3 separate regions of the Homo sapiens genome follow, and all the other regions are reported to be linked to region 2. Evidence: microRNA targets listed by miRTarBase, many of them from high-throughput screens and not tested one by one. Region 2 holds a microRNA gene; each other region holds the end of a gene's coding sequence.

What was found. The annotated mature microRNA hsa-miR-759 reads GCAGAGUGCAAACAAUUUUGAC and lies in region 2 at 2,802-2,823, shown strand. An mRNA with a match to its seed (bases 2 to 7 or 8) in the 3' UTR can be bound and repressed. Matches are read on the target gene's strand: a 7mer-m8 pairs with bases 2 to 8, a 7mer-A1 pairs with bases 2 to 7 and ends in A, and an 8mer does both.
Region 1: the mRNA of VPS37C is a reported target of hsa-miR-759. Seed matches in the 3' UTR shown: 7mer-m8 at 1,275-1,281.
Region 3: the mRNA of AMBRA1 is a reported target of hsa-miR-759. Seed matches in the 3' UTR shown: 7mer-A1 at 3,382-3,388.

Annotation. Positions count from the first base shown.
Region 1 is chr11:61,127,985-61,132,155 of GRCh38, reverse strand. It overlaps VPS37C (VPS37C subunit of ESCRT-I), which reads left to right. Exons shown (of 5, transcript NM_017966.5): 5 at 1-1,899. The coding sequence ends at 336. Among named protein-coding and RNA genes, the nearest start is that of CD5, 28 kb to the right of the region's middle. RefSeq lists an enhancer at 2,065-2,359.
Region 2 is chr13:52,807,272-52,811,484 of GRCh38, forward strand. MIR759 (microRNA 759) reads left to right here and starts at 2,779; the gene lies at 2,779-2,869.
Region 3 is chr11:46,393,606-46,397,818 of GRCh38, forward strand. AMBRA1 (autophagy and beclin 1 regulator 1) reads right to left here. Exons shown (of 18, transcript NM_001387011.1): 18 at 2,809-4,213. The coding sequence ends at 3,845. Among named protein-coding and RNA genes, the nearest start is that of CHRM4, 3.9 kb to the left of the region's middle.

The DNA of each region.
Region 1 (4,171 bases), not on the chromosome of region 2:
TACCCGGCAGCCCAGCTTGGACCCAGGGGTGCTGCGGGTTACTCCTGGTCCCCACAGAGGAGCATGCCACCCCGGCCGGGCTATCCTGGGACCCCAATGGGTGCCTCTGGGCCTGGGTACCCCTTGCGGGGAGGCAGGGCCCCCAGTCCTGGTTATCCTCAACAGTCCCCATACCCCGCAACAGGAGGAAAACCTCCCTACCCAATACAGCCTCAGCTCCCCAGCTTTCCAGGCCAGCCCCAGCCCTCAGTGCCCCTGCAGCCCCCTTATCCCCCCGGGCCCGCCCCTCCCTATGGGTTCCCACCACCGCCGGGGCCTGCCTGGCCTGGGTATTAGACACACTCCTGGCCCTCGGCCCCTCCCTAGTCCCACCCACGCTCAACCTTTGGCCCAGCCATCGCCGAGATTCGAGGGTCAACTGGAAGTGGCGTTGGTGCTCCCTGTGGACTTGCGTCGGCACCCAGAGGCCTTGGAGGGACAAGGCACTGGGCGGTGTGACTGGTCATGGCACTTGCTGGCCTTCTGGCCAGAGGTCCTCCTGGAAGCCCCTCCTTTCAGTGCCTGGCTGCAGCGGTGCTAGCCAGGCTGGAGTCCAGCACCTCTCGCCGGTGTCTGTGTGAGTGAGCGCATGTGCGCATTTATGAGCATCTACTTGCGGCTGCACTCAGGGCCATTTGAACCCAGTGCAGAGTTATCTCTATGAGGAGGCCCCGGGTCTCCAGCCCCCTCCATCTCCCCTGGGGTTTGGCATATTTGACATGGAGCCCCATGCCAAGGGATGCAGCTGTTGGTGTCTGTCCAGTCCATTCAAGGCTAGCCTGCCCATGCACTGTGGCAGGGGTTGGATTGGAGGGAGAGAACAGAGTTGGGAAAAACAACAGGTTTGAGTCCTATAAAGCCATAATTTAACTCCAGTAGCTGATGTCAGACAAGCTTGTCCTATGTCCTATTTGAGTGGCAGCAGCGCCAGCCCAGCAAGAAGGCTGGGGGTTGTCAAGGTTGTCCCCAGACCTTGCTTGCAGTGGTTGGAGAACCCAGGGGGCTGCCTTGGGCCCTCTGGCCAGAGGGAAGCGGGCAGCTCTAGCCCTGGAGATTGTGGTCACATTGGGGCTTGTTTAGGATTGGAGGGCCAGGTCACCTCCCCAGCCACCCTCCCTTCTCTCCTCTGGGGTCCCCACTTTAGGGCGACTTTGCCCGAGGCCCACGCATCCATCCACTCCTTTAGTGCCTTGAATCTCATTCACAAGCAGCCCCCTCCCTTCCCCTCCCCTTCTCACTCTGTTGATGTAATCCTCCCACCCCCAGTGTCCATCCTAAGACAGGCATCAAAAGAGGCCCTAACTTTACTTCCCAAATGGTGCTTTTTAAAAAACACCATCACTACATTAGGGGCAATTTTTTCACACCTCCCTGTCTTCAGAATGTAAAGGGTGGGGATTATGTCTCTGTTTAATATGCAGCCCCCTGCACTGTGGGGTTTGGGGCATGTTCAGTAATAAGAATGAATACAATAGACAAAGGGGGTGTGATGAGTGTTAACTTGGTTGTTCCAGAGGTAAACCAGGTCTCAGGGAAGAGCCTGGAGCTGCTATTGCTTAGGAAGTTGTACGTGCCTTGAAATGTCCACTACCTGAGGACGCAGCATCTGGTGGGCCCGGGGCTGCTGGGGCCAAGGAGGGACCTTGACCTTCTGGTGCCTGCCCCTCCCCGGCCTATGTGCCATCCGCGTGACGCTAGGTCAGCGCTGCCGGTTCTTTACCAAATGTGCTTGCTTCTCCTAAGTTATTTATAAAGAGAAATCACTAATGGACTCTACTGGTTTGAGTGCTTCTGAGCTGGATGACCGACCGCCTGTATGTTTGTGTAATTAATTGCCATAATAAACTTTGATGAGTCACATGTGGTGTGGTGTTGCTGGGTTTGAGTGAAGACGTGGCTGCATGTGGGTGCCTTGAACTCTTCTGCAGCCTTCAGATCGTGCTCTCTGGAGGGGCCTCTGTGATTCACATCCCAAAGCCCCATCCGTCTGGATGTCAGCCCTCCCTTGCCCGCTCGCCCCAGGGCTGGCCCTGGGAGTATTTACCTTCCCTCTCCCGCTCTTCCGCTTTCTTTCTTAGCCGTTTTCCTATTGGAGCCTACGTTTGCCTGGTCCTGGACTGAGAGCAATGGCATGCAAGGCCACAGGATGCCACGAGGGGGCGTCTGGTCCTCAGCCTGCTCGGGAGGTGCTGCGTTCCTGCCACCTGCCGGGCTGGCGGGATGTCGGCGTGTGGGCCTGTCTGTGAGCCATCTAATTCTAACCTGGGCTTGCAGGATGGGCTCAGAGGAACAGCAGGCCGCTAAACTGGCTGCGGCACCAACAGTCTTCTAGGCCTTGGCCCAGCCTGCCTCCCTCCCCAGCGTCGCCTCTGCTGCTGAGCTGCCTATCCCGAGGCCAGGGAGGGCGTCTTCAGCTCAGCAGGAAGGGCAGCTTGGAGGGAGTCTGAAGACCAGGCTTCTAACAGTCCCTCATGTCAGCCCTCCGCCTCTCCTTCCCCGCAAGGTGACCGGGCGGCCACCTGTGGAGGATGCCTAGAGATGCCCTGAAGTCGCTATGGCTGCAGGCTGTACTGTGCTTTCAGGCGCATTATGTCCTGGAGTCCTCGCAACAGCCCTTTCATCCCCAGTTTAAATGGGAGGAAACCACAGGGCAGGTGGTTCGGTGAGCGGGTTGCACAGCCTTAGGAGGAGGTGGGACTTGGACTGGGTCGGTTGGATTTCAGAGGCTGCAGGGGCTCCTTCCCCCTGCCTTGGTGGTGCCAGAAGTGCCTCCCGAGGACAGAGCTGAGAGTCTCTGGGCTCTGGTCAAACGTTTACTGCCCTTCACCCCCAGCTGAACTCTGGCTTTGCCTTGCAGGTGTCCAAGGCTGAGGACACAGGACATCAGGGACAGCTGGAAGCAATTTGGCTTTGTAGGAAGAGGCTGCAAATCTCCCTCTAGGCGCATAGTCAGGTCACCTGCCTTGGGTTGGTGCCAGAGTGGTGGCAGGGGGCACGGAGGGGCTGACTTTCTAAGAAAGGACCATCATGAGCTGCCTCAGCTGGTCAGCCCGCGTGTCCCACCCTGTGCTCTTTGCTTCCCCCTCTCCCTGGCCACCTCACCTCAGAGGGCAGCACACACAGGCGCTCCTCACGCCTCCCTCCCTGCATCCCTGGGAGATCACTGGCTGCTTTTCACCAGACTACAGTGGGCCTCCCGCTGCAGGGGGACAGACCCTGAGCATCAAATTTAGAGTCTCAAGAGATTCCTAGCTTAGGACACTTTGCTCTGCTGGATGTGGTGAGGCCATATAAATGTCATGTCCTTACAGCTCTCTGTTCCGCTCTGTACTCCCAGATCCCTGGGTGCATGATAACTTTTTTTTTTTTGAGACAGAATCTCACTCATCTGGCTCCCAGGCTGGAGTGTATTGGCGCCATCTCAGCTCACTGCAACCTCCGCCTCCCGGGTTCAAGTGATTCTCCTGCCTCAGCCTCTTGAGTAGCTGGGATTACAGGTGTGTGCCACCATGCCTGGCTAATTATTTGTATATATATGGTTTTTTTGGAAAAAAAAAAAAAAAGCCTGTTGCCCAGGCTGGAGTGCAATGGCAAGATCATGGCTCACTGCAGCCTTAAACTCCTGGCCTCAAGTGATCCTCCTGCACCAGCCTCATGAATAACAGACTATAGGCATGTGCTACCATGCTCAGCTAATTAAAAAACTCCTTTTTTTGGTAGAGCTGGGGTCTCACTTTGTTGCCCAGGCTGGTCTGGAACTCCTGGCTTCAAGCAATCCTTCCACCTTGGTCTCCCAAAGTGCTGGGATTACAGGCACGAGCCACCATGCTTGGGCACATGGCAGTGTGAAAGCTAGACTTTTTGGTCCTTGGTATCCTTGACCTAATGTGCTAGAATCAGGGGTTGCACGCCCACTCATTGGCCAGGTCACATGATTTACGCAGGAACATAATTTACGGAATGGGCAGGGTTTGAGGGACACACAGGTGAGTGGAAGGGCTGGCCCTGCTCTAGCAGGTTGCTGGGATGCAGGAACGGGGAGGTTGTCCAGGTCACGGCAGCGCGTCCTCTACCAAGGGATGTGGACACCAGCCCCCGAGCACTGGCTGGGGGAGCAGTGGGTTGCCTTCAC
Region 2 (4,213 bases):
GGCAGTTCAAAGATAGCTGAGGCCACTGTGGTGGATTCCTTGAAGAGTGTGGAATCTCCTTAGGTGGTAAATTTGATGCAGAGCCTGGGACCAGCAGCATTTATTTGTAAATGGTACAGAGATGGAGAGCAACCCTAAGCGACCCTGGTACTCTTTCCACTATAAGGAGTTGGGGATTTCCTCTGCAAATTTTTGATGAGTTGGTCTCATTTTAGAAATATTAAAATACTTATAAATGTGTAATACTGACACAGGTGCCAGTAAAAAAGAGGAATCAGCCGGGCGTGGTGGCTCATGCCTGTAATCCCAGCACTTTGGGAGGCTGACGCGGGTGGATCACCTGGGTTCAGGAGTTTGAGACCAGCCTGACCAATATGGCGAAATCCCATCTCTACTAAAAATACAAAAATTAGCTGGGCGTGGTGGTGGGCGCCTGTAATCCCAACTACTCGGGAGGCTGAGGCAGGAGAATCGCTTGAATCCGGGAGGTGGAGGTTGCAGTGAGCTGAGATTGCCCCATTGCACTCCAGCCTGGGCAACAGAGCAAGACTCCATCTCAAAAAAACAAAATAAAACAAAAAAAACATCCTCGGGGATTATGAAGACATGAAAAACGGAATTGGGGCTGGATAAACTTCCTTCAAGAGCTGGGTCCTTTGTGGCCAGGCGTGGTGGCTCATGCCTGTAATCCCAGCACTTTGGGAAGCCAAGGCGGGTGGATCACGAGGTCAGGAGATCGAGACCATCCTGGCTTACACGATGAAACCCTGTCTCTACTAAAAATCCAAAAAAAAAAAAAAAAAAAAAAAAAAAAAAATTAGCCAGGCATGGTGGCGGGCACCTATAGTCCCAGCTACTCAGGAGGCTGAGGCAGGAGAATGGCGTGAACCTGGGAGGTGGAGCTTTCAGTGAGCCGAGATCCTGCCACCACACTCCAGCCTGGGCGACAGAGCGAAACTCTGTCTGAAAAAAAAAAAAAGAGAGAGCTGGGACTTTGCAATCAGGCATGCATACCTGGTTTTCAGCCGTGTGAACCTGGATAGGTGACCTCATCTCCTGAAACCTCAGTTTCTGCATCTATAAAATTGGGGAAGTATCAGTTCCTTCTTTATAGGGTTGGAATAAGAATTGATGAGGTAATACATATAATGTGCTTAACACATTGTCTGGAACATAGTATTTAATTAATGCTAATTATGATTAACTTTTTAAAAAGTGGTTTAGAAAAGCTAATTAATGCCTCACTTAATTACAACCCTTAGACATTAAAAACATTTAAAAATGCCTCAGCATAGATATTCAGTGGGAAGACTTTTGTCTGTTACTTCTCAGTTAACCCTCCTGGCATTTAAATAGTGAGCGTGTGTTGAGGTGCAGGCATCCATTCTCATTTAACAAAGCCCTTTTGAATGGGTAGTTCCTTGAGGTGGCTCTAGGAGAAAGCCCTATCGTGTGTCTAAATGACCTACATTATTTGGAAAAACAAACAAAGCTGGATTGATCTGAGTTGATTGCTTTCAGAAACAACAAATTGGCTAGATTCAACGATTTCCTCCTTTCCTTCACCAGCCAATTTTTGGGTAGATATAGCTTCATTATAAAATCTGACCAAGCTTGACTCTATATAATTCAATCTCAAAGTATAAACAATCTGGAATGTTTTGTGGAAGACCTTGAATGATTTCTGAGCAGGAGATGGAAGCCTGAAGAATCAGAGAGTGAATGCATTCAGGTTTTCAGTGGCACGTGACCTTGATTAGCACACAGTAACAAACCAATTGGTGTCTCCTGAAACTGACCCCTCTCCCTTGGTTGATGAGTTTGATCCATGCTATTGTCTCTGGAAGGGTACTGGAAGAAACCTCAGGGATGAGAGGAACCTAACCTCTCATTCTGTAGATGAGGAAGCTGAGATCTAATGAGTTTGCATGACCAGCATCTATTACTCTACAATATTTTCCTCTTGGTTCCAACGCCATGCTCCATTTTCTTCAAGCAAGGGCTATTGGGGGAAATTTTCAATCATTTTCCAGTTTCCATGTTATTCACAATAAAACACAAGTTATCTTTATTAAAAATGTAAAAGTGTCAGCTTTTTAGATCTGGGTGTATCCATTTGTTTCCCTGGGAGACAGTGGGGAAGAGGCACAGTGCCTGGGGGTCGGGGCCTGGGAGGGTGGTGCCAATGGGGAGGGTGAAGAAGACCTTCACTGCCACCTTGTGGTCACCTGGGGCCAAACAGGGTCATTCCTTGGGAACCTCTCTCTGTCTAGCTTCTTTGGCTGCTTGCCTGAGATCTTTATCAGTGCAGTCAGCATTGCGTCAATGAAGCTTTTGTTATAATTTCTCTTCCATTGCATTTTCAGTTTCTTTAGCCCAGGGAAGGGGAAGTTGTTGAAAGCTAGCAAAATTCTGTATGTTGAAAAAACATCTGCAGGGAGGAAGAGGTCAGAATCCAGGAAAGGCTCTTAAGAAGAAATGTTTACGAGCTTTGCAAGATCCTTGTCTCATCTTATAGCATCTCTCCACAAGAGCAGAGATTATGGGACAAAAGTCAGGCCTGAGTTGGCACCTGTCATTATTATTACTTGGTCAATTGAGGAAGTTAGGATAGATGAGGATTCATTTATTATCTCATTTATTGGCCTTATTTGCAGTCCAATTTAGTTCTCACGTCACATTCTGATAGTCTCAGATTCAATAGCATCAGTTGAAATACTAACAATATTTTTCAGTGCAAAAGAATGACTTTCAAAGTATATATTATGGAAAGGATTATAATAAATTAAATGCCTAAACTGGCAGAGTGCAAACAATTTTGACTCAGATCTAAATGTTTGCACTGGCTGTTTAAACATTTAATTTGTTAGAATGGAAGTAGCGGCACAGAATAAGCATGTTAATTAAACTTGGGCTTTAGCAATGTGAGTCATCCCACGGACACAGAGCGTGACAAACCCGGATGGCAAAAGTCAATGTGCGTTGATTTCTCATTCTCCAAATGAACACTTAACATCTTTAAACCCTGCAGACATTAGTGGTTTTTAATGAATTGTTCTGTCTCTTTGAGGTGACTTTTAGATGATGCCATAGTACTTTTAGTCTGGGAAACAACTTTGCCAATTAAGTTGCAGGGAAGTTATCACCGCAGAAAATTGATTAAAATGATTATATGGCGAATCTGTTCCATGCTTTTACATTAAAAAATAGAAAAATGTAAAGAAGAGGTATAAAAACAAAACCTTGAAACACCAGTTTATCGAAAACAAAAAATCTCCATCATCACCATCATATTACCATCACCACTGCCACCACCGCCACCATCATCACATCTTTTGGGGCTATGGAATATCTAGGCCCAGATTTCCTGTCTGGCCCTGGTTCTACGTGGTAGAGTTATGGTAACATGATGCTGGTTAAGTCACTTGTCTCCTCTAAGCTTCAGGTTCCTCATTTGTAAAATGAGGGCCTTTTTATTGGTTAGGGTAAGGCTAAGCTGATGCAGCAAAGAGGCCCCCAAATAGCATGATTTACATCAGCTAATAGTTCATTGCTTCTTAGAAGTAACCCAGTTGTTTCAGGCTGGCAGGGGAGCACTTGGCTCCCTTACTCAAAAATCTTTGGTGACTCCTTACTGCCTGCAGAACTCAATTCAAGGTCCTTCACAACCTGACCTCAACCTACACTTCCAACTTAGTCACTCATAGCCTTTCTACTTCCATCTGTGTCTTTTCTGTCCTGTTCCCTCTGCCTAGAATTCTCTTTTCTCCTTCACCTATTGACATTGTATGCATTCTACATGGCCTAGCTCAGAGGCTGCCTCCTTCATGAAGCCTTGTAATTCCCTGCCTCTTGCCCCTTTTGATTACCTTTTATAACACTCATTATTTCTTCCTCTGCCTTCGCATATCTTTGCCTCCTTTATAGTATCAAATTCCATTTGCCTTATAATTAAATCAGTTATTTATGCAAATAGGCTTTATGTTTCTGGAGGCAACAGACTGCATATTATTTATCTTTGTTCCCCAACTTCTCTATCCTTCCTTGCCTTGCCCAATATCCAGCATTGTTGCTTGCCCAATAAATGTATGTTGAACTGAACGGAGTAAAAAAAGTTGTTACAGATAAAAAAAACTCAGTCATCAAAATAGCAACCATTTGTTAACTCAAGGGGCCAATTAGTCAATGAGCTATTCTTTGGAAAATTCCAGAT
Region 3 (4,213 bases), not on the chromosome of region 2:
TGGAGAGCTGAATTGGGAACAAGGGGACTTGGTGGTTTCTCTGCTCTGCTTTTGATGCCACTAGGTCAGCAGACAAGTAACAGAATTTCTCTGAACCTATTTCCTCATCTCCAAAAGGGACTGCCCCTATCTTTGCCCTGGTGACCCCACAACCTTGTGACGTGTAAGGGGCCTGCAAAGGTTTTACTACCAGAGAGGCTCTGTCATTGGGCAAGGGCTTTCTAAGGAAAGGGGCTGGTGTGGGGACAGAGAGGTGTTGACAAGGGCCTCCAATGGGGGGTGGGGAGGTTGGGGAGGGTGGCTGGCACCATCCAGAGACAGCAGAGACAAGGCCTGGCAGGTCCAAATTTGGACCACCTTGGCCGGATGGTGGCTCACGCCCACAAACCCAGCATTTTGGGAGGCCGAGACAGGCAGATCACTTGAGGTCAGGAGTTTGAGACCAGCCTGGTTAACATGGTGACACCCCATCCCTACTAAAAATACAAACAAAATTAGCTGGGTGTGGTGGCACACACCTGTAATCCCAGTTACTCAGGAGGCTGAGGCAGGAGAATTGCTTAAACCTGGGAGGTGGAGGTTGCAGTGAGCTGAGATTGTGCCATTGCACTCCAGCCTGGGTGACAGAGACTCCATCTCAAAAACAAAACAAAACAAAACAACAAAAAACAAACAAAAAAACCCAAAAAACAAATTTGGACCACTTCATCCCTAGGGACCTCCCCATACCCTTTTCCCCAAAGCAACAGAACAAGTCAGGGTTCCATTGTTTCTCCTACACCTTGTCTTCCTTCTGTAGAAATGACTGGCTGAAGTGTGCACTCTGGAATCATACACTACTTGGTTCAAACTCTGGCTCTGCCAGTTAATTGTGTGCTCTGGGGGTAACAGCAGTAATGACCTCAGAGAGTTTTTGTGAGGATTGACAGAGAGAACGCACATTGACTCCTGGCCTGTGGTTTACATTAAACAAATTAGCAGGACCCACTATCAGACCAAGGAATTCTTCCTCCAACGGGTGGTGGGGAGAGGATGTGGGGCAGTGGGCTCCCTTCTCCTTCCATCCTTCAATGCTTAGCTCAAATCCACTTTTTTTTTTTTTTAAAGAGATAGCATCAGCCGGGCACGGTGGCTCATGCCTGTAAACCCAGCACTTTGGGAGGCCAAGGCAGGCAGATCACCTGAGGTCGGGAGATCGAAACCAGCCTGACCAACACGGAGAAACCCCATCTCTACTAAAAATACAAAATTAGCCAGGCGTGGTGGCTCATGCCTGTAATCCCAGCTACTAGGGAGGCTGAGGCAGGAGAATCGCTTGAACCTGGGAGATGGAGGTTGCGGTGAACCGAGATGGCACCATTGCACTCCAGTCTGGGCAACAAGAACGAAACTCCGTCTCAAAAAAAAAAAAAAAAAAAAAGAGAGAGAGAGATACGGTCTCACTTTGTTGCCCAGGCTGGACTTGGACTCCTGGGCTCAAGTGATCCTCCTGCCTCAGCCTCCCAAGTACTTAGGGACTACAGGTGTCTAAATCCCACCTCTGAAAGGAAGCCTGCCCTAGCCACTTGTGTGCTCTCTGGGCTTCAGTGATTCCAAAGTACAGAACTAGAAGTAACTTTGAGGTTGTGTAGTACAAGCCCTGCATCCTAACAAGGGAAAGTGAAGCCCAGAAAAGGCAAATGGCTTGCCCAAAGTCACACAGCTAAGTGATGTGTCTTTCAGTCCAGAGTCCACTAATACAGAATTTTCTAGAAAATAAGAGTCTTCCTAACTCTGGCCATGGTTTTTTATTTCTTGCTTGCCAACTTATCTTTTGGTTTTGTCTCTGTTGGAGCAGAACCTGGAATTCTGAGTGCCCCATGGCATCAGGGACAGATTTGGGCACACACACACACACTCAAAAGTACGTGCTGCTGGCAAAAAGCCCTGGAATTGCTTGGATTTTCCATTAGAGCTCTTGAAGAGTTGGGGCAAATATCCTTTTCCCACTTGAGACGGAGTCTCACTCTGTTGCCCAGGCTGGAGTGCAGTGGCGTGATCTTGACTCACCGCAACCTCTGCCTCCAGGGTTCAAGCCTCCCCAGTAGCTAGGATTACAGGTGCGAGCCACCACGCCTGGCTAATTTTTTTGTATTTTTAGCAGAGACAGGGTTTCACCATGTTGGCCAGGCTGGTCTCAAACTCCTGACCTCAAGTGATCCGCCTGTCTCGGTCTCCCAAAGTGCTGGGATTACAGGCGTGAGCCACCACGCCTGGCCAGCTGGAAGCTTTCAAGCAGCCAAAGCCCACGAATAGAGCAGGCCTTTCGGCCACTGTAGGGAAGACACAGTCAAGGGAGACCTGAGCAGCTAGCAACTGGCACCTTGCCTGCAGATAGGACCAAGCCCCTCCACCTGCCTAGCAGGCTGGACACCTGCTGTGCGTGCTTTCCCAGGACTGGAGGGGATCCAGGTTTCTGGCCAGTTACATCACTTCAGGCCTGTAGTCCTGGGTGGGAAGCTATTAGGATGAATAGCCTTCTGTCGTTCCTTCCTACATACTCACCCTGGCACTGGAAGGTGGCCCCAGTCTGTAGCAGGCCCTGGGGAAGCAGGAAGTGGTGGCGTACAGAGAAGTGGTATGAAGCAGAGGTGGCAGCCCTCACCTGACCAGCTCTGGCGAAGGGGTCAGAGGGGTCCACTGCACCCCACTAGGAGAGCACCAGAAACAGTGCCGGGAGAACCTGGGCCTGGCCCAGTTCAATGCCCCTCACTTCCCAATCCCCACCCCTCCCCCATCCTCCTTGGAAATAAGAGAGAGGAGCCTGGCGAGGGGCATGTCATCATTTTAATGATGTGATCTTTGGTGTTTCCCTCATTAGCTGTAGACTATCCCCTCTCCTCCCACCACAATGTTTCTATGATGAGTTACAAACAGAAAGGAAATCACATTTTCATACTAAAAACAAAATGATCAGAGCCTTGATTTCTCCACTAGAAACTACACGTACAGTTAAGAGTCCACATGCAACACCTTAAATCACAGACTGAGACCTCACATTCTGACCTGGAGTCTCCTCCCCTTCCCCAGCCTTGGGCTAGCTTTGGCCTAGGCTCAGGTAATACTGACACCCACAGGCGCTGCTCTGAGGGCCTTGCGGGGAGAAGACTGGTGGACAAGCCCTGGGGGCTGGCCAGCCTACACCCCCCACTCCTGAGTGAGGACCTGCCCACTGTCCCTTGACCCCATCCTGTATCAGGCAAGCAGGCGCCCCCTTACCCCACAGTAGTCCCCCATTAGTAAATGCCGAAGTCCCTGTCCTCAAGAATCTGGGAGCCTGGCCCGATCCCTGTTGGTTTCAGTGGGGTAAGACGACGAAGAGAGGCTGAAGCTCTGGAAGGCTCAGAGTTGGAGGTGGTGTCTGGGTTCCTGGTGGCTCTGCCCACCCAACAGGTGGACAGGGCAAAGCTGCCTCGCGGGCCTCTGTCCAGGATGATTGGCCCAGATCTGGAAGACTGTTCACTCTCTGGAGGCTCTCTGTCCAGGGCTGAGTCCCCTGAGCCCATGTTACTAGGAGAAAGTGGGGTGCCTGGCAGAGATACCCACTTGTTCCTCTATTCACATTAAGCCCACAGTGTGGCTCTCCCGGGCTCCAGATCCTGGAAGGTTCTAGTTCCCCGAGGCAGGCCTTGCCCATTTGACTGTCTTGTGCCCACTGACTGATCTTCCTCTCCACCCTGACCCTCTTCCTCCTCCTGTTCCCTGATGCAGCCAGCAGCTCTTCCACATGTCCAGTTCCCAGTCAGCTGTGAGGTCCGGTTTCTGCTTGGCGGTTCGAGGGGAGGCACCAGTGCAACGTTTGTCTCTACCTGTTCCGTGGTTCTCCCCTAGGGCCTGCAGCGTCCCCCCTGCTGCTGCCACCATCCAGAAGGTGGTTGTTATTGGTCAACTCGCAGTGGAGGGTTGGTCCCTCAGCGCTGGGAAGGGAAACAGGAATGGGGACAGGGGAGGAAGAGGGCAGGGTTGGCTGGGTTGGCTCCCGCCCAGGGGTACCAGGCTGGTCCCAGGAAGCTGTCCGGGGGCTTAGGCCTCGCTCTGCCAGTTGCCCGGCCTCTGGGAGCAGTCCCCGAGAGGTGGAGGGCTGGGGTGAGGAGGTGTGGGCGGCACCAGGTTCAGTGCCCGTCTGAGAGCTGCGGTGAATGCGGTGGCTGACGATGATGTTGTTGCCGAAGCC